Linked DNA regions of Homo sapiens: all the other regions are reported to be linked to region 1. The links are microRNA targets in miRTarBase. Many come from high-throughput screens and were not tested one by one. Region 1 holds a microRNA gene; each other region holds the end of a gene's coding sequence.
What was found. Region 1 holds the annotated microRNA hsa-miR-1262 (AUGGGUGAAUUUGUAGAAGGAU, at 2,662-2,683, shown strand). A microRNA usually pairs through its seed, bases 2 to 8, with sites in the 3' UTR of a target mRNA and lowers its output. Matches are read on the target gene's strand: a 7mer-m8 pairs with bases 2 to 8, a 7mer-A1 pairs with bases 2 to 7 and ends in A, and an 8mer does both.

Region 2: the mRNA of EHD4 is a reported target of hsa-miR-1262. Seed matches in the 3' UTR shown: 7mer-m8 at 828-834 and 7mer-m8 at 2,315-2,321.
Region 3: miRTarBase lists AMD1 as a target of hsa-miR-1262. The part of its 3' UTR that is shown has no 7-base or 8-base seed match.
Region 4: miRTarBase lists MTX3 as a target of hsa-miR-1262. The part of its 3' UTR that is shown has no 7-base or 8-base seed match.
Region 5: the mRNA of TXNDC16 is a reported target of hsa-miR-1262. Seed matches in the 3' UTR shown: 7mer-m8 at 791-797.

What each region holds. Positions count from the first base shown.
Region 1 is chr1:68,182,259-68,186,258 of GRCh38, reverse strand. It overlaps MIR1262 (microRNA 1262), which reads left to right and starts at 2,649; the gene lies at 2,649-2,741. The region is part of intron 2 of WLS (Wnt ligand secretion mediator); the gene reads left to right. The region is part of intron 9 of GNG12-AS1 (GNG12, DIRAS3 and WLS antisense RNA 1); the gene reads right to left.
Region 2 is chr15:41,896,684-41,901,131 of GRCh38, reverse strand. It overlaps EHD4 (EH domain containing 4), which reads left to right. Exons shown (of 6, transcript NM_139265.4): 6 at 1-4,448. The coding sequence ends at 487. LOC105370792 (a long non-coding RNA gene) reads right to left here. Exons shown (of 4, transcript NR_135681.1): 3 at 3,611-4,448; 4 at 2,317-2,965. Among named protein-coding and RNA genes, the nearest start is that of SPTBN5, 4.9 kb to the right of the region's middle.
Region 3 is chr6:110,892,964-110,897,411 of GRCh38, forward strand. AMD1 (adenosylmethionine decarboxylase 1) reads left to right here. Exons shown (of 9, transcript NM_001634.6): 8 at 1-102; 9 at 513-2,750. The coding sequence ends at 653. Among named protein-coding and RNA genes, the nearest start is that of AMD1, 20 kb to the left of the region's middle.
Region 4 is chr5:79,979,664-79,984,111 of GRCh38, forward strand. MTX3 (metaxin 3) reads right to left here. Exons shown (of 9, transcript NM_001363818.2): 9 at 1-4,131. The coding sequence ends at 4,021. Among named protein-coding and RNA genes, the nearest start is that of MTX3, 9.4 kb to the right of the region's middle.
Region 5 is chr14:52,428,887-52,432,886 of GRCh38, reverse strand. It overlaps TXNDC16 (thioredoxin domain containing 16), which reads left to right. Exons shown (of 21, transcript NM_020784.3): 21 at 300-2,291. The coding sequence ends at 583. Among named protein-coding and RNA genes, the nearest start is that of PTGER2, 120 kb to the right of the region's middle.

The DNA of each region.
Region 1 (4,000 bases):
TTTAGCTAGGATTTGAGTTTCCAAACCCTCAGAAAACTAGAAAAGCATTGACTTACACTATAGAAGCTGGCCATTGTTTTAATTTCTGAATTTAATCAAGCCAGTGCCTTTGGGAGAAAAATGATGGCATTATAAGGTACTTTATAGTAATAAATTTCCTGATACACAGCTTCTAAAATTCTTGGAATCTCCTGAGTGATAGGAATGCCTCTTTGCATGCTAATGAGTCAACTGATGGCTGGGGACTCCCAGATAGCTTCAGAATGGTCACCTGAAAGACCAAGGCATGATTAGAAGGGTGGGGAACTAATTTCAGCCCCACCCACCAACAGCCAGGAGGGAAGAGGCCTAAAGATTGAGTCACTCGCTTATGGCCAATAATGTAATCAGTCATGCCTAGGTAATGAAGCCTCCATAAAAACTCAAAAGGACTGGGTTCTGGGAGCTTCCAGACAGCTGAACTTGCAGAGGTTCCCGGAGCATGGCACCCTAGAGAGGACAGGGATGCTCTGTGCCTTATCATAGCCATCCTCAACTTTTTGGGCACCAGGGACCGGTTTCATGGAAGACACTTTTTCCACAGATGAGGGGATGGGGGATGGTTTGGGTATGAAATGGTTCCGCTTCAGATCATCAGGCATTAGATTCTCATAAGGAGCATGCAGCCTAGATCCCTTGCATGAATACTTCACAATAGGGTTCCCACTCCTATGAGAATATAATGCCAGCTGATCTGACAGGAGGCAGAACTCAGGCTATAATACTTGCTCACCCACCTCTTACCCCCTACTATATGGCTCAGTTCCTAACAGGCCACTGACTGGTACCTGTCTGCTGCCAGAGGGTCAGGGATCCCTGCCATACCACATGCCTTACCCTATCAATCTTTTATCTGGTTGTTCATGTGTATCCTTTGTCATATCCTTTATAACGTGCATAAGTTAAGTGTTTCCCTGAGTTCTGTGAGCCTCTGTAGCAAATCAATCAATCCTAAGGAGGAGGGTCATGGGAACGCGTATTTATAACAGGCCACAACCTGTTTTTTCGATGGGCATCTGAAGTGGGGAGCAGTCTTATGGGACTGAGCTTTCAACCTATGAGACTTGATGCTATTTCCAGGTAAGTGGTGTCAAAATTGAATTTTTGGACACCCAGCTGATGTCTGCTGTGGAAGTGATTGATTGCTTGCTTGGTGTGTGGAGAAACCTCCCCCGACTCTGTGCCCCGCTCCTTCCATCACACCTGGGTCAGAAGTAGTCTGTGTTATGTTGATTATGAGTGGAGTGGGAATCAAAAAGTGTTTTTTTTGTTTGCTTGTTTGTTTGTTTTTCCCCTCACTCGGAGTTCAACTTCTAAATGGTGGTAGTTTTAAAACAATAGTCTGTAAGAGCTGAGGAAAAGAGGCCAATTAAGAAAATCTAGAGACTCATAGATACTTGGGAACAGGAGTCATTGACCTTTCAGTGAATACCAATTACAAATATGAACAGACCTGTCTGTGGAAATCTATGATTGAGTCAGTGCTGGCTTTTTGCTAAATATTTCAGAGGTACAGAATTAATGAATTTGTCAGGATGTAAACATGATGCTTCTGTCTAGTTGTTAGGGATATGGGATTTCAATTTTTACTCTAAAGGAGTTAGGAAATGGAGTATGAATAGGCAGAGAAGAGTGTCAGAAAAAAGTCAGCCTTAACATTTAGAGTCTGGATGTATTATGAATCACTGATAAAAATGATTATTTACCTGATGGTATTAGACCTCTTGGTAAGGCCAAGTTCTGTTATTTGAAAATATATTCTAGAGTGTTTTTGTTTTGTTAACATGCCATTCTAAAATACTTTCCCAAATATACCATTTTTTAAAAAGTCACTCTATGCATTAGGAAAAGAAAGGTTTGGGTTGGCTAAAACGGTACCCACTGGAAATGGGTTGTCACTCTAATGATTACAACTGCAAGTCATACACTTAGTATACCCCAGACTCTCCAAGGGCTTCTTTTGAGAAACCTGGGTGCATAGATCAAAGTTAGAGAATTTGTTTACATATCTCTCTTTCCAGCTTTCAAATCTATAAGCTGTTGAAATAGAAGCACTAGAGCCATTGGCAGAAAGCCTCAAGATGGATAGCTGTGTCTTGAGTAGTAAATCTAGGAGTTTCAGGGGTTGAAAAATTCCTGAGACTGAAAAAATATTGGTAAATGATGAAGGGTAGGGGAAAGCCAGAATAATGTCAGTCCTATTCTTACGTAATGAAAGCATTATGTTTCGCCTTGATCCTTGTGCTGTACACTGGAACCCAGTGTTGTCTTACTTGTTTCATTATTGCAAATGGTCACATGAAGCAGAATTCTTTCTATAAGTGGCAAGTGATTTTTCTTTCCCCACACTGAAAGCATTTCTGTATAACAAATTTCTAGTTAAAGTAATTAGAATGATATTATTACCAGTCAGTTTTCAAGTTAGATGGCTGAGTGTCCTGGGAGAATGTTGACTGACTTTTGGCAGAGTAATTGTGCTTTTCCATTTGTCCATTTATTATGGAATGTTAAGTGGACATCAAGGGAAGACAACTGGAATAAAGGGAACAATCTATTGATCATAAACAATTCTCTGAATTTCATCCTTCTACAAATTCACCCCTCACATTATCTACAATGGTGATGGGTGAATTTGTAGAAGGATGAAAGTCAAAGAATCCTTCTGGGAACTAATTTTTGGCCTTCAACAAGAATTGTGATATTTAATTCTGTGTTTTCTGATGCTTCTGAGGAAAGCTCCATAAAGAGAGCTGAATGGGGCAGAGGATTTTATACACTATAAGAACTATCCCTGCTATGATGGAACAGGCCATTGGTAGTATGATATTCACATAATTGTATTTCTGTGCTTCAGCAGATAGTCCTTATTAATAAAATATGTTGAAGCAACTGCTAAGAAGAAATGTATAACTCTACTCTCCCACCCCTACTACTACTCCCACCAAAAAGAGGTCTTCTTTCATTTACGACCATGTCTTCTTTAATTTATGACTATGTTATAGCCTGTGTTAAAACTATCTAACATTTTGGCTGGGCACAGTGGTTCACACCTGTAATCCCAGCACATTGGGAGGCTGAGGTGGGTGGATCACCTGAGGTCAGGAGTTCAAGACCAGCCTGACCAATATGGTGAAACCCTGTCTATACAAAAATTAGCCCAGCATGGTGGCGTGTGCCTGTAATCCCAGCTACTTGGGAGGCTGAGGCAGGAGAATCACTTGAACCTGGGAGGTGGAGGTTGCAGCAAGCCGAGATCGCACCACTGCACTCCAGCCTGGGCAACAGAGCAACTCTGTCTCAAACAAAAAAAACCTCTAACATTCTAATTAGATAGTTTTCATTGTTGGCTAGTGTCACTAGAATTTTAAAGTTACCTTTTAAGTTTCTTTACCACAATTTGAGTCAATGCAAGCAGAAATAAAAACTTCAAATTCTCCCTTTGTTCTCCTCCTCCCTCCTCTCCCACCAAAAAAGGCAAGTTGAAAAGCTCAAAATACATCAAAAAGATCTCAGAGACTTAAATGGAGTAGGGTTTGTAGTGTTAGGTAAATGGTACGGAAGTTGTCAGTATTCAAGATGGGCTTACATGGCCAGTCTTCTTTACTCTTATTGAATTGTGTGCCCCTTCAAACCAAGGCTGGAACCTGGAAGTTACCAGTATGAATCAGTTTTACTTACTGACTTGGTATAGAAAGCAACTGAAATCATGGGAGAAAACTATATTTTGTTTACCCCAGGATAGAGAAGATTAGGGACATGATGTTTGTTTGCTCATGAATTATCTCTCCCTTTGAGGAAATCTTCAGGCACTTCTTGACAGCTCTTCCTTTGGAATTGACCGTTGTGAGCATGTTATATTGGCAGGAGCATGGGAACCTTTGGCTTTGAGTGTGATTATTGTTAAGCACATTACTTGGACAACATCATTATAAGGCTCCTCCATAGGCATCGCTATAGAGCT
Region 2 (4,448 bases), not on the chromosome of region 1:
GCTGATCGAGGCAGTGGACAACATGCTGAGCAACAAGATCTCGCCCCTCATGAACCTCATCAGCCAGGAGGAGACGAGCACGCCCACGCAGCTGGTGCAGGGCGGCGCCTTCGATGGCACCACCGAGGGCCCCTTCAACCAGGGCTACGGGGAGGGTGCCAAGGAGGGCGCCGACGAGGAGGAGTGGGTCGTGGCCAAAGACAAGCCCGTCTACGACGAGCTCTTCTACACTCTGTCGCCCATCAATGGCAAGATATCAGGTGTCAACGCCAAGAAGGAGATGGTGACCTCCAAGCTGCCCAACAGCGTCCTGGGCAAGATCTGGAAGCTGGCCGACTGCGACTGCGACGGCATGCTTGATGAGGAGGAGTTCGCGCTGGCCAAGCACCTCATCAAGATCAAGCTCGACGGCTACGAGCTGCCCAGCAGCCTGCCCCCCCACCTCGTGCCCCCCTCGCACAGGAAGTCCCTGCCCAAGGCCGACTGAGGGGTGGGCTGCAGAACGGGGTGGGAACTGGGGGACCTGGGCCTCAGGCCTGCTCCACCACTGACTCACCGAATGACCTTGGGCAAGGCACTGCCCTCTCTGTGCCTTGGTTTCCCCATCTGTAGAATGGGGAGGGTGGACACTGGAAACTAGATGACTTCTTTCACCTCCAAAATTCCCTTAGTTTCTATGAAAATATTGGGGGTAGGGGGGTGGATTAGGAGATTGAAGGGTTGAGAAGAAAGAGAAATTGTCCAAAGAGTCCTCAGAACCTGCCTGGAGAAATGCGCATGGGGGTGGGCCTGGTAAGTCCCAGGAACCACAGGAAGTGAGCTAAGGCTCACCCAGAGCAGCTGGGTCTCCAGGCTGCCTGGGCTTTTTGTCCTCATGAACAACTCTGGAGCAGCTGTCTGTCCCTCAGAGGGCACCTGGAGGCAGCAAAGATTATCTTATTTATTTTATTTTGTTTTCTGCTATATTTAGAGTGGCAAAAAAATAGAGCAGAGGGTTTCTGCTGTCTCCAGACTGTCTACCAAAGAGAAGGCGACAGATGCCTCCTGGGTTTGGAAGGGGGATGCACTGTGGATCTGCCATCCATTCTGCAGTCTCCAGCAGAGCAGGCAGTCAGGCCCCAGCGTGCCTCCATCCCAGTGCCCCGATGACCATCTGGTCAGCCCTCCCAACCTCCCTTCCAGGGGGCTTACCAGCAAAGCCATATTCGGCTAGGAATTTGGAATTCACAACCTTTATTAACCCCTGGCAAAACTTCCCGTTTGCATGTCAAATCACATTGAAGCCTGAAAATTAGCTTTTCTTACTGGTTTTTCCAATAAGTAATAGCAAAGCCCACTTATCATACTTAAACTACAGTAAAGAAAAGAGGTGGTTCTCTGCAGTGATCGTTTAGTGTGGCCCTCAAACATTAAATATCCCGAGGTCTCCTTGGTGGGTGGCAGGATTTAAATTCAATCAAATCCTGTCCTAGTGTGTGCAGTGTCTTCGGCCCTGTGGACACAGGTGAATGAGGGACCAGCCCTGCCCTGGGCTGTTGAGAAGAGATCAGTCCACCCAGAGTTAGACATTGTTTTTGTAGAAAACAGGCATTTATTATGTCTAGGGTTTTGTGTTTTTTTTTTTTCCTTACAGGATAAAAGCCTTTATACAGAAACAAAATGGAACCTTTCATATAAAACCTTTTCTTTAAAGGCTGTGTGGTTCGTATCATGAATGCCCATCACGAGGCAGGATTCGGGCACATACCTGTACTTCTGCTCCAGAGTGTGCGCTCCCCAAATCCCCTGAGTAAACCTCTCTGGACTGCTGCTCAGACACCTGCGTCAGGTGGAGGTGCCTCCCCCTCTGTGGGCACCAGCTTGGGGAGGTAGGTGACTTTTCCTTGCAAATCTCCCTGCCTCATCTCCAGAAAATTGCATACCTGCATGGCCTCTCTGCATTATTTATGCAGGAAGAGACACGAAACAGCAATGGCCACATGGTATGGGGGCCTGCTGGCACCAGAAGTGAATGAAATCAGAACCGTCCCACTGAGTCTTCCAAAAGGCACATAATTTTTTTTTTCTGTCACCTGCCTTTGGTGACAGGGTCAAAGGCACAGATTGAAGAGAAAATCTTGATTTGGGAGAAGCATTTATATCCAGATGCCTACCCTTACACTCCCTAGCTTACTTTCTACATAATTTAGTTTTAAGAGCAGGAAATGCATAACATGGTTTTTAGTCTTAACAAGCACTTAAATTCATTAGACGCATAGAAAAGAACCATTTATTATTTTATTATTTTTATTTTTATTTTGAGAGGAAGTCTCTGTCACCCAGGCTGGAGTGCAGTGGCGCAATCTCAGTTCACTGCAACCTCCGCCTCCCAGGTTCAAGTGATTCCCCTGCCTCAGCCTCCCAAGTAGCTGGGACTACAGGCACCCGCCACCACGCCCGGCTAATTTTTGTATTTTAGTAGAGATGGGGTTTTACCATGTTGGTCAATATGGTCTCGATCTCCTGACCTCGTGATCTACCCACCTCGGCCTCCCAAAGTGCTGTAACCTAAGCAGACAGTTCTGTGAATGCGTGAGGACCACCTGAAGTCTGCAGCCACGGTGGAGGTCACCAAAGGGTGAACTGAGAGAGAAGAGGGAATTCACTTGCCCAAAGGTTTACAGATGCCCAGGCAAACTGATTTTTCCATCCAGAATTATCTTGTTCTTTAACTCTCCTCAATTGTCATATATAAACATGAATTTATATACATGTGTGTCACATGAGTATGTCGTTTTAAAACAACGTGTACATATGTAAGTTTTGTCTGGATACAGAAAGCTGCTTTAGAGGGCAGCAGGTTGAGGTCTCTGATTTCTCCGTGGAGGAAAACCTCTCAGGCACTGTGATCTCCCTACCTCTGCGCTCTCAGGTGGGAGAGGCGTCAGGCAGCGGAGTCCTTTCCCTGCTGGCACCTGGTAATGTTCTTGGAGAGAAAGGAAAAAAAAAGGAAATCATTTGGCCACTTTTCTTAATATCCTCTTACATGCAGTCATTCATCAAGAAAAGTTGACTGGAAAAGAAAACACTAGAAAATATGAGGGATGGCGACCAAGTGAGGACTTGTATCTTCCCAGGACCAGTACAAAGTTCTGTGAATGTGTCCACACCACCAGCTGTCTCCCTACCCCACACGGCAGGGCGGCAGGGCCGACCCTGGGGCCTGCTCACCATCACCGTTGCCCTTCCTGCACCACCCCAATTTTCAAAGAACCTCTTCCACAGAGTGTTTATGTATAGGAGAGAGGGTGGAAGTACCTAAACTCTAGAACTACAACATCTAAGAAGCTGAGGCCCTGTTTTCTACACAGCATATGGTATCGCATAACACAAACCTTCCGGTCTTGAGTTTAAAGGGAAAATGAAAACTCCAGCCTATTGCTCCCACAGTCTGCTTCCAAGTTGTCAGCCTGCCAGTGAGGGTCTCCTGACCCCGTTTGTAGAGAAACACTGCACTAAGACTTGGGAATCTCCCCAGCTCCCAGGGAGGGGTGGCACACAACAGCCTTCCAACCTGCTTCCGCCTCCTGCTCCAGCCCTGCAGCGTCTGTCAATTCATTTCTCAACTCACCGCACTTGGATGGCCTGGGGGCAGGGTTGCTCTTCTGGGGGAGGGTCATTCATTCAGTTGGCTTTTGGCTTTCCTTTCTCCGGGCTGGGCCTGGTTCTCTTTTGAACACTTGTCGTGCTGCAGCAAGAGCATCTTTGGATTTGGGGCTGTGGAGCTGTGGTTCACCCGCGGGAGTCACAGCCGCGGCCTGGACCTTTCCACCTCGCACCCTCGCTCACCCTCCTTCATGATGCCTGGAGGATGCCTGAGACAATTGCCTTGAAGATGAGGAAAGTGTTTCACTGTTTATTTTCTCCATGGGATGTAGCAGGCAAGCATGCTTAGGACAGAAAACCACTGAGTTTACTCAGGTAAATGCGGGCCTAATACAAGAGTATTGGGTTCCAATGTTGGTTAACCAATGCAGTTAATACGCAATGCTTCTATTTTTTTTCTTTTTGTAATCTTATTTAGAAGTTTCAAACAAAAAGACATAGTCTGCTGATCAATAAACATGGAGCTGCCCTCTCCCACTGGCTCATTTTCCAGTGGCTGCGTGCTGGCCTCTCGGAGCAGAGTGTGGATCCCTGGATCCAGGTTGAACCGGGGGAGAAGAGTTAGGGAGAGGGTGTGCCTGTGAGCCCCAACTCTTCCTGTGGAGAGAAACCCAAAATGCAGCCGCTTCAGAAGGAAAGCGGCCCCATCAGGTGGGGACAGAAGAGGGTAGGCAGCAGAGGCCAGGTCTGTGGACAAAAGCCCCACTTCAGAGTGGTTGGAAGCCAGGACAGGAGGGACTCATGGAGGTGACCGCTTCACAGGAGTCCTTTCTCCAGTCGTGCTAGGGAGGAGCCCCTGCCTG
Region 3 (4,448 bases), not on the chromosome of region 1:
TTTGAAACAAACTTAAGTCAGACCTCCTATGATGACCTGATCAGGAAAGTTGTAGAAGTCTTCAAGCCAGGAAAATTTGTGACCACCTTGTTTGTTAATCAGGTAATTTTATATTTTATTATTAATCAGGTTATTTGATTTTTAAAATCTTAAAGGAAATGAGACAGTGAGGCCTAAGATGTATTCTGAGATAGCACATATACCAGCCACTCAGATATCCAGAAGTAATATTGTTTGAGGTTACTGGTAGCTGAGAAGCTTTGTTTCATTAGACCTGTGTCAGTCCTTGTTTTCTGTCTAGCCAAACTGATGGGTTCCTCCTGTCTTGCTATTGACAGGCCTCTGGTGGGAGGAACCATAAGATGCCCTGGCCCCTCCAGCACATAAGAAGGCAGCTAAAATAACTCAGATGTCTTAGTTTCATTAAGATAAAAGTCTGTCACTTAACTGTTTTGGTTGAAAATACTTCTCTGGATTGCAAACACTAACGGTTATTTAATTTTTTCCCCCAGAGTTCTAAATGTCGCACAGTGCTTGCTTCGCCCCAGAAGATTGAAGGTTTTAAGCGTCTTGATTGCCAGAGTGCTATGTTCAATGATTACAATTTTGTTTTTACCAGTTTTGCTAAGAAGCAGCAACAACAGCAGAGTTGATTAAGAAAAATGAAGAAAAAACGCAAAAAGAGAACACATGTAGAAGGTGGTGGATGCTTTCTAGATGTCGATGCTGGGGGCAGTGCTTTCCATAACCACCACTGTGTAGTTGCAGAAAGCCCTAGATGTAATGATAGTGTAATCATTTTGAATTGTATGCATTATTATATCAAGGAGTTAGATATCTTGCATGAATGCTCTCTTCTGTGTTTAGGTATTCTCTGCCACTCTTGCTGTGAAATTGAAGTGCATGTAGAAAAAACCTTTTACTATATGAAACTTTACAACACTTGTGAAAGCAACTCAATTTGGTTTATGCACAGTGTAATATTTCTCCAAGTATCATCCAAAATTCCCCACAGACAAGGCTTTCGTCCTCATTAGGTGTTGGCCTCAGCCTAACCCTCTAGGACTGTTCTATTAAATTGCTGCCAGAATTTTACATCCAGTTACCTCCACTTTCTAGAACATATTCTTTACTAATGTTATTGAAACCAATTTCTACTTCATACTGATGTTTTTGGAAACAGCAATTAAAGTTTTTCTTCCATGAGTTGAGTCCTTAAGAAAATGATTCCAGTTACTCATTTTGCATATTTGCTATTTTAACATTATTGGACCCTGCATTTATAGTCCTTTGATTTCTTCCCTCTCCCTGGTGTCTCCCCCAAGACCCCAAATAAAGCAATACACTGTTAACACTGTGGGTTTATATACTAATTCTATACCCCAGATGGGGAATGGGGGAGATGGTCCCTGGGCTTAATATTCTTTAAAGGGCATGGGAATTTAGCCTCTCTTTTATTGTAATGTGCTCTTTTGGAAAATAGTTGGTTAGCAGGGAAGACCCAGAGTTGTAGATTGAGATTAGGGTGTACTGGCTGAACTGTGGAAAACATACAATTCTGTGTTCCTCAGTAAATGAGATTAGCGTCTAATGAGTAGCACCCCTTTACTAACTTAGTAGTAGTATAAAATCATTTTTATTTAGTTAATTACCAGAGAGATTTAGCATAATTTTGTTCTGGATTCAGTAAATCAAGTCAGCTTGGATCATTCACCTTAACTTTTCCTTTAGCAGCCATTTCCACTAGTTTCCATTAAGTAGTGTTCTATAAACTTTGATCCAAAGCAGAATCAATGTCTTTTCCATCTCGTGACTTAAAGTTCTGTGACTGTGATGCATGTGAGTGTTCCGACTTCATCTGTTCCTCTTAACTACGGTGTTTCCCTTACCATGGCATTCATAGGATGAAATGAATGACTGCCCAGAATGAGAATTTGTCCAGATTATTCAGATAAACATCATAAAGCAGAATACATTATAAATAAGTAGAATATGAATAAATAGAATAATAAAATTCCAAAATACTCAATGGGAAATGACTAGTAATATAGGCTTTCAAGAGTTGGTACCTTTTAGCTATATTTGCAGATTCTCTGGGATTTTAAGGAACTGAGAAAACAGCAAAGTTGACTAAATTTTATATTTCTTGTCCTCTAAATATTTTGATAATTTCTGGATTGATGCAGTGATGTTTTTGTTCCTTCCGTATTTATAAATGAAACACCTTTTTTTAGTGTTTCTAAACCTAAAATCTACTTGGTTTGAAATCAAGTGGTTGGAACACTGTTTGACTTTTATTTGAAGCATGTTGTTGATTGAAAATTTCATTGAGGAAGTTTTCAATCAGTGTGATCAGTTTGATTCTGTAATGAGCACAGCACCTAATATTTTGAGGAGCTCTGTTTTGAGGACCAATGCTTAAGGTGGACTTTGTTCGTAAACAATATCCCAATAGATTTGTTGACTTGAGGTCTGGTTTGGTTTTGTTTTTGTTTTGTTTTGTTTTGTTTTGTTTCCAATAGAATTAAGAATTCTAATGTTGAAAAACTGCACAAATTTTTATGGGACAAAGCCTAGAAAAGAGAAATGTAGTTTGAATCATAATCTAAATCATCGTATGATAGAAGAGGGAAAGTTTTGGTGCCATAATTTCTCCTTTCACTGGTGTTGGACTTAAATCAGTTGAAATGTATTTCTGTACCACAATTTACGCTTCAATAAAAGTTTAATTGTCTAGTGACATTCAGAAACTTTTCTGTTGCCCTGTTTTTTAAGTAGCCTACTTGACCAAATACTACATGTCTGAAGTTTAAAATCAATACAACAATGTGTATTTATGAGTTTGGAGTTAGACAGAAGTTTAAAAGTGTTAGGTCCCAACCTTTATTATAGACTAGACTCTTAAAACATTGGTTGAGGATGATCAAACTCAAATAAGTTTCCTTATTTCATTCATGGTTATTTCTATTAAGTAGAAAAAAATTTATAACCTTGATCATTTTCTTTATTTTTTTTAATTTAGGATCTTGTTCTGTTGTCTAGGCTGGAGTGCCGTGGCTGTTAACAGGTGCGATCATAGCATACTGCTTCCTTGAACTCCTAGGCTCAAGCAGTCTTGCTGCAGCTTCCCAAGTAGCTGGGAATGCAGGGTTCTGCCATCACACTTGGCTTTGTCATTTTCTTTATTTGGCAACATTTTAGTTCCACAGTCAAATATGTAATAAGCTGAAAAATCTTATGAAAATGTATATTCTGATCTTTCTCAGAATATGCTTCCGTTAGAAAATATTTCCTCAATTTTCATTAAAAACAGATGGTGTTCCTAGAAAAGCAAAATATTACATATCTGTGCAATATGTAATTCACAAGATTCATTTGCCAAAAACAGGTGAGTGAATTTGGGGGTTCATTAGTAAGCAGTCACCAAGTTTCTGTCACAGACACATAACTGGAAATGTGATTTTATTCTCCTGGATGGACAATTGTGATGGATTTTTTGGGTTCCGGGCTTCAGGCTTTGCAATCTCATCTTCTTTGCCCTTCCTCTTGTCATAATGGAAGAGGTGCTGCTAATTTGGGTTCCATCCTTTCCTGCTTTCAGAGACTGTCCTGTGATTTCCTAAAACATTTCCATTAGTTTGTTTGAATTTTCTGATTTTCTTCCCTTAGGGCCCTCCACAGGCCTCTGTGCTAGTGCCTTGAATGATGGCAAGTGTACAAAAAAAATTTTTTTTCTTTTTAAGACGTTTTTGTTCTGTCACCCAGGCTGGAGTGCAATGGCGTGATCTCGGCTCACTGCAACCTCCACCTCCCAGGTTCAAGTGATTCTCATGCCTCAGTCACCCAAGTAACTGGGACTACAGGGATGTGCCACCACACCCGGCTAATTTTTGTATTTTTAGTAGAGACAAAGTTTCACCATGTTGGCCAGGCTGGTCTTGAACTTCTGTCCTCAAGCAATACGCCCACCTTTGCCTCCCAGCATGTTGGAATTACAGGCATGAGCCACTGCACCTGGTCAAGTGTCCAAATTCTTACTCCAAAACTGAACTTTGGGCTGGGCGCCATGGCTCACACCTGTAATCTCAAAAGTTTGGGAGTCTGAGGTGGGAGGATTGCTTGAGCCTAGGAGTTTGAGGCCAGTCTGAGCAACATAGTGAGACCCTGTCTCTACAATAAATAAAAGGAAATTGAGGCTGTAATGAGCTGTGATTGTACCACTGTACTCTAGCCCGAGCAAAAGTGAAACCCTGTCTCAAAAACAAAAATCTTGACTTGTGCAATAGCCACAGTTTTCCTGGATTCTCAATAGAACCCTATGGTGACATTTGAAACACAAAGCTAGAGGTATGTGACTTCAAGATGGTAAGAAAACCATGAAACAGACTTGTCAAGGGATGTCTGATAAATTGTTGGATATCTGGCCTAGGGGCCCAGACAATAGATTT
Region 4 (4,448 bases), not on the chromosome of region 1:
GTAAACCCCACTACCATAGAAAGAAAAAAATATAATTAGATATTTTAAATCACAGCATTTTTGACTTCCTAGGGAAAAGGAGTTTTTGGTTTTAGGGTTTTTTTTTTCTTTTCTGGTAAGGCAAAATAGATCTTTAGATATCATTTGTTACAAACATGAGTTTTTCTTAAGAATGAAATAAAAATTCTATTTAACTTCTATCATATATTTATTCAACTAAGTTGAATACTATGTTTAGAAAATTAAAGTTTTAAATCATGGTTTATATATAGATAATGATACATTTAATCTATGAATTTACTTTAAAACCACTTTTATTTTGAAATACTTAAGACTCACAAGAAGTTATAAAAATAGTTCAGAGAGATCCCAGGTACCCACTGCTTAGCTTCCTTTCTTTACATGTAAGCATTTATATCTAGGTTTTAAAAGGGTTGAAGTTTTTGACAGTTGATGAAAAACTGTCAAAAAATTGTAACAAGCCTGGTAAATGCATATTTTTGGAGGAGGTTCTAAGGAAACACTACCAAGTTCAAGTACCACTTTTATCACATGCAGCTGCCTTAACCAACAGGTTTTCTAAGATACTATCCCCCTTACCTGTTTCTGCCTCTTTCAATGGTGTTTTTCCATTTTTACAGACTTCTGAAAATTTTAGCTTTGATTGAAATAAGCTTCCCCATTCCTTCATGTTAATATATCTAGCAATATTGAATAGAAATTATAAATGGAAATAAAAATGCTTGCTTTTATAAAATCTCCAGTCTCGCAGCACCCCCAATATAATACAAACAAACTTAAGTTGAAATTTGGTTTGTTAATGCCCACCTTGTGTGGTCAAAACACAGTTTTGAAGGAATGACCACCTTCAATGTTCTTTACAGCTTCTTTAGTGTTACTTAAAAAAAAAAAAAAAATCAATCTGATGGATGATTGATGGTAGTTTGTTCATGGAAGATCTTCATCTTATGGGAATTATCTAGTTTTTCTAATCATATACTACCAACAAAAATAAACACAAGCATGTTCCCTTTAATCATATTATCCTCCACCATTACTTCCAAAAGGCATTGGCTCACAGTATTCTGTTTAAGATTGTGGACCATTTATCCCAATGAACTCACTCAAACTTTATCTAAAACATATCATGACAGGCTGGTCCAACAGTCTGTTCAGTCTGAAAAAATGTTCTGTGCTCTGTTCAGATTGACAAAATGTTCTTTTTGGCCGGGCGCAGTGGCTCACGCCTGTAATCCCAGCACTTTGGGAGGCCGAGGCAGGTGAATCACTTGAGGTCAGGAGTTCAAGACCAGCCTGAGCAACATGGTGAAACCCCGTCTCGACTAAAAAAAAAACAAAATTAGCTGGGCATGGTGGCACATGCCTGTAATCCCAGCTACTTGGGAGGCTGAGACAGGAGACTTGCTTGAACCCAGGAGGTAGAGGTTGCAGTGAGCCGAGACTGCGCTACTGCACTCCAGCCTGGGCAACAAGAGTGAAACTCTGTCTCAAAAAAAAAAAAAAGTTCTTTTCTAAGAGCTTCCTGTATGTGTGGCTGCTCCCTAAAGTACTTTGTGCTCAGTTACAGCTTCCTGTCATCTCATTTACTTATACATAAATAGCTCAACTAAGTAACCCAACATATAAACTCTCACTAAACTCACATGTTGCATCTTAGAAAAGGTGATCTGGAAGCATTATGGACTATAGTGAGAATGTAAGGCTAACAGCAGTTCAAAGTAGGGATGACACAAAAACAAATAAATCATATTGACAGTCATTCCCTCTACTAAAAAAGAATAATACTTGTTATTCTAAAATGACCTCTTTTGATTAAAATTTCAGTTCATAAAACATTACAGTATGCTTCTTTATCAAAGTCTACATATCAGAAGAACATGAGCTCCACGTTCCTGTAAAACTTTAAACACATTTTTCTTCCTAATAGACATTAGCAGTTTTGTTGAAAAGAAAAATTGACATAACCTAGCATTATCTTTTGACTTTGCCCATGGAGAAACTTGGAGTTAAATTTACTACTTAATTTTAGAATCTGTCAGTGTTGATATGGTTCTATAAATTTTTAATTTTTTTAATTTAAATTTTTAAAATTTTTAATTCTTTAAAATTTAAAATTTTTAAATTGTCCTGTTTTACATGTAATATACTTGTAATATACATGTAATGTACTTGTACGTTATAACTGTAATATATTTCAAATACTTTTTGGAGGGTCTGATATAAATCTGATATAAATTAAAAATGACTGGCCTTGACCACAGCATAAGCAGATGTCTGATGAATGTGCTAACCACCCTTCTCCAATATACATCCATCCTAGAGGACAATAAAGTCTCACAGTCATGATTTCCAATATAACATATTTAGGTTTCAGACTGCTGGAATAATAGATTTCAGATTGCTGGAATCTAATAATCTGCCTTTGAAGATGACTGACACACACAAACACACACACACACACCCTGTTGTAGAAGTAATGTGCAACTCATGAGGTACTTTCCCTCATCCAAACAGATGACCAAGATTTTGAAGACTACCTTATTTCTCACTTAGTTAAAACTTTCAAGAAAAAATATTTAGAATGACTTAAAGACTCTTGTATAAATAACTACCTAAATACAGAACAAATTGGGAGGATGTGGGTCAAACACAGCTGAGCTCCACTCAGCTCAAATTAGATGAGTCTTTTGACTACAAAGCTCATTTTCTTAACATATGGGTTCCTGCACGACTTGATAAGATTTGCTGAGCACCACAGTAATCTTTTAAGACACTAATCAAAAACATGGTTCTACATTTTAAAAACCTCAGAAGTAGTTTTAGGACAACAGAAGCACCTCAACCACTAAAATAAGCAAGTTTCTATTATAAGTAAAATTACCACACAGCAAATCCCTTAACAGTTCAGCAACCAATAAATAGAAAATATTCATTAAAAGCTGCTATTTCTGATTGTTCCTTTGTATTCTTCGACTATAAGTGAAACATATGAAAAATAATTGGTTGTCAGAAAGCTTTTGACTACATGATATGCATCTTATGAAAGAATATGCATCTTATGAAAGAATATGAGCCAAGCATAGAAAACTTGGACCAGATGCACAGTATTTCTACTACCCTGGCCATGGGCTCCTCCTGAGTAGTGTCTAACAAGTGGGCAATTTCAGTAAGAATTTTACAGCCTAGCATAGTAACGATAACCAGTACATTCACTTCTTCTGGAATTAATACAAGAAAGACAACTGAAGATGTACTACAAAGACATAGGTCTAAAACTGCCACATTTGCCCAAGTAAACTAAAAGAACTCTTCCTAACCTATATCGAACACATCAGCAAAGACCAATGTTATACTGAAATGAGTATTATCAGATGTTATTATATGTAACCACCTTTAATATTTATCTATGTGCTACTAAACCCCCAAAAGATTAGACTTATGAGAGCATAATTAAAAAGCACATTCCTCCTCACTTTTTAAAGTTAAATATGGTCTCTTCTACTGAAGCAATTTATCTTTTTCTGGTTCCTAAAATAGGCATCAAATTTCTAAACAGAAGTAAAAAGCCTCAGCCAAAAAGCCACATATTAGGTATTCAGCCTGGTCTAAGAAAACTAAGTTAATAAATTGAATAAATTAAATCAAATAAATTAGGAGTGCACATTCAGAACAGAATTGTAGCCTTTGGTCAGCAACATGTGAACCAAAGGCAAAAATCTGCCATGATTAAGGCAGTTCTTTGTATACAGTACGATGTGTTTTTCTTCCCCGCCCCCCCAACCAAGTTCATTTAGCATTCTCTTTGTTATTAAAAATGCAGTGCCAAGCTAGAATACAAGCTTCCTAATAATAATAGTAAAAATAGATGGCATAGAAAGTTCCTTTTGGTTTAGAGTCTTCCTTAATACCTATTATGGTATCTTCTTTTTGCCTTCACACACTTGGTGTAAGAGATTACTGCAACAATCGTTTGACTTTGGCCACAAACCATGACTACTCTCAGGGCGAAAGCCGTTGGAAGGAATTATTTTCTTCTTCTGCTGGAGTCAATTTAAGTGTTGGCAGTTTCCGAGGAGGAAGCTGAGGGCTTTGGCGAAGATTGTCATCCATCTGTAGAAAGTACAAAAGATACATCTGACTAATGCTGTGGCACCGCTTATGTGGACTGTGGCCTCCCCATCCAAACTATAGCCTAGAAGAGTACAGAACCATATGTTTCCTGGGCTGCTAGAGAAACCTTTTTCTTACAAATAATCTCAAGAATTCTAAATGTCATACCTCAAATACCAGCTGACTCAGTTTCTGTAAAAAGCAACGTGGCTCATTCCTGATACCTTCACAGAATTATAGTTAATTCCACAAAATAAATATTCTACTGAACTCAACCATAACTTAAAGAGGTCTTCTGATAGTAAGTGTAAAAGCGG
Region 5 (4,000 bases), not on the chromosome of region 1:
CTTAGCAAAGGTTAATCGGCATTGAGATTATGGACCTTTTTTCCCCTATTCATACTTTTTTTAAAGAAAATAATAGCTTGTAAATGTAATCTAAAAATGAAAATGGCTAGTAGTGACAAATGTATCAAATTTCTTGTTGACAATGACAGTAAAAAAATTCCTAGCTTTGCTTAGATAAGTAAAACTAATAAAACTTTCACTTCTACAAATATATTTTTCAAAATAAAACATTTTCTAATATGTTGATGTGACGATTTATAGCTGTTAATCTTTAACCTTTGATTGTTTCTTCCTTCCAGCAATTTTACCTGCTCAAGAATGGAAACCTCCTCTTCCAGCTTATGATTTTCTAAGTATGATAGATGCCGCAACATCTCAACGTGGCACTAGGAAAGTTCCCAAGTGTATGAAAGAAACAGATGTGCAGGAGAATGATAAGGAACAACATGAAGATAAATCGGCAGTCAGAAAAGAACCGATTGAAACTCTGAGAATAAAGCATTGGAATAGAAGTAATTGGTTTAAAGAAGCAGAAAAATCATTTAGACGTGATAAAGAGTTAGGATGCTCAAAAGTGAACTAATTTTATAGGGCTGTGGTTTCCAAAATTTTTTTGGCATGATAGACTTAATTTATTTCCTTAAAGAATAATATTAAATCATTTCAAGTTTGCAGACTAGTGCCATCCAATAGAATTATAATATAAGTCACATATTTTATTTAAAATTTTCTAGTAACTACATTAAACAAAGTAAAAGTGAGCAGGGCAAAATAATTTTGATATTACTTTTCACCCAGTAGTATACCCAAAATAGCGAAATATAGAAATTATTAATGAGATATTTTACATCCTTTTTTGTACCAAGTCTTCTAAATGCAGTACATATTTTATACTTACTGCATTTCTTACTTCCGAGTAGCCATATTTCAAGTGTTCCTTGCCACATGTGGCCTGTGACTACTGTATTGGACAGTTCAGTACTAGACAAAAACTAGCATAATTAACTTAGTTCTAGCCATGATTTCTATTTGGATTAAAATTAAACTCTAATCACAGTTAACTCCACAGTGCATTCATGCAGCTGACAGTTATATTTGTTTTATTGGAGTCATGATATTAAAATCAGCGTTTGTCAACCTCAGGGGATATTTAGCAATTGTCGGGAGACATTTTTGATGTCATGACTAGGGCAGTTATTGACATTTAGTGAGTAGAGGCCAGGGATCCTGCTAAATAACCTGCATTGGACAGCGCCCCACAACAAAGAATTATCCTGCCCGAAATGGTAGTCGTGCCAAGGCTGAGTAACCTTGTGTTAAAAGTAACCTGTGGCAGACTAGGTTTCCAGAATTTCCTGGTTCTGCTCACGTATCATGTTTGAAAAAATTTTGGCTATTAAAGATATGTATTAGATGGTCTTATCCTGATTATTACCTGGATACAACTTGATCTTTTCTAATATTTTCAGAAAGTGATGGGATAACCCTAGAAGAGGACTCAGAATGATATTTATATTTTAAGTGAGTCTTAAAACCTCCTCTTATTTCTACAAGTTATATGGCTAAATTTCAGATTGAACAGGGATTCAGCATTCTGCCATCTCCTCATGGAAAGAGAGGCTCCCTCATCTGAAGCGTCTCTGAAATCTACCCTTGCAAGCTTCAGACAAATCAGTTGATCTCCCTGAGCCACACGGCCTCATTCTGTGAGGGAGGGAAAGATTAGCCAAAGAGTTAATTTTCATTCCAAATCACTTAGCTGTTAGACTGATCTGTTTGTAGCAGTTGTTTGTCTCATTTTTGCTCTGTGCATTTTTTGAGACATTTGTTGAGAATATTCTATTTGGTGCTCTACTGTATTTTTCTTTTTAATATCTACTTGATATCTTGTTCTTTAAATTTTCTTCACATATGGTTTGCCTGATACAACTGATTTTTATAACTGAAATTTAAGGAATCTAACAGCTAAAACTCAGTAAGTGCATATATTTCCTTATAACATAGACCCGTTGCTACTCTCAGCACCCTCTCCTCAATTTTTTTTCCTGTAGCATGTGATGCCTGATTAAACTCATTTTCATTTGCTTTTATTTCTAATATGGGAACAATGAGAGTGAACTCTAAATATAGGTTGTAGTAATAAAACATCATTAGCCTAATTATTAGAAAATGCTAATTAAGTACCAGCACATAGAAACATGAAATTGCTTAGTCATTGTACCTTTGTCAGCAATTTTGACAGTCATTAATGTTTGTCATAATTTTAAATAAAGTGTCTGGGTTTCAGAATACCTTCACAAGCCTCCTTTAGTCTCCACTGTGCCCTCTCGGACCACTCTCCCTCTATCAGTTGGGTTTCTTTGGTTACAAGCAACAGAAATTCGACTTTGGCTCACTTAAGCAAAATGAGAATATTGGATAATTCACAGAGAAGAAAAAGTAAAGTAGGCTTTGAAAGGATAGGAACTAAGTCTGTTCTGTGTAACAGGAACTAACAGCTCAGTGAAGAATCGGTTCCAACTGATTTACTATCTTTTGTGACTCAGGGAGTCCTGGGAAAGTTGGTTAGGGGACCACTAGGCACTTTAATTGGCAGTCCTAACAGTATTTTATTTATTTATTTATTTATTTGAGATGGAGTCTCGCTTGGTCACCCAGGCTGGAGTGCAGTGGCGTGATCTCGGCTCACTGCAGGCTCTGCCCCCCGGGTTCATGCCATTCTCCTGCCTCAGCCTCCCGAGTAGCTGGGACTACAGGCGCCCGCCACCTCGCCCGGCTAATTTTTTGTGTTTTTAGTAGAGATGGGGTTTCCCTGTGTTAGCCAGGATGGTCTCGATCTCCTGACCTTGTGATCCGCCCGCCTCGGCCTCCCAAAGTGCTGGGATTACAGGCGTGAGCCACTGCGCCCGGCCCTAACAGTACTTTCAAATGCAGAAGGGGTGAATCTCACAAAAGAAATCCAAATTCTGTTTACCAGAAAAAGAGAGTGAATGCAGAGGAGGAAAAACAATGAAGAAATAGAAAAACCATGAATCCCCAAGACACTGCTTGCTGTTCTTCTACCATCCTCTGTATCCTTTTCAGGTCTTTCTGCTACCTCTTACCCATTTTTGAGAGCTCCAAAAGCCCTCTCTCTACCCTGAGTGGTTATAGCTTTCCTGTATATTCTCCTGGTCCTCTAGTAGGGTTGGTCGCCAGTGCATATTTACATTTTGTATAACATTTCATGTCTCATGAGTCATATTATTTCACCCTCTCCTGCCTCACCTGTGCTAGAATGTAAATATCCTTGGTCCATTGTTTCCAGCCCTTGTGATGAAATGTTTCACGAGCTGTTTTTCAAAATTCCTAGAGTTCCTCACTTATGCCTATGCTTCTTTAAAAAGTAATTAAATATGTGTAAGGTGAACAATAAGAGTTTGCAAATCAGTGTCTATTTCAGTAATAAAAAGTAATCGAGTAGATACACCTTAGGATTTTCACTTCCACCTAAGACGTAGAAAACTGCAAGACAATGTTACTCCTATCCTAACAACAAAAATTTATCAATTTTCTTATATCCTTCAGAGAAAGTAGCCAAAGGAACTGAATTTCAAAGAGTGACAAGTCCCCTTCAAAGAGAAACAGGATATGTGAACTGTTTTGCCTTCATCAGAGAATAGGAGGCTGCCATTAAAGCAAGTGAGAATAAATTATAAAGAATTTAGAAGCACTCCTTGCAAGTTAGTTTGCCTCAGATTCCTGAATTGGAAACAAAGGACTTTATTACACCAGTAGCATTAGTCGGAGTGTCAGCATCCCCACAGTGTTATCAGAAGAGGTCCAGGTGATACCTGCACACAGAGTGGATTGCATAACAGAAAGAACCCTGAGTTTAGGGAGCCCAAATATGTTATAATGGATATTTAGCATGCATGCCCTTTGCTCTGGAGGAATAGATCTTTATTATACTGGACAGTAATCAAACTTGTCCTTCTAGAGGGAGATACTCTCTAGGGAG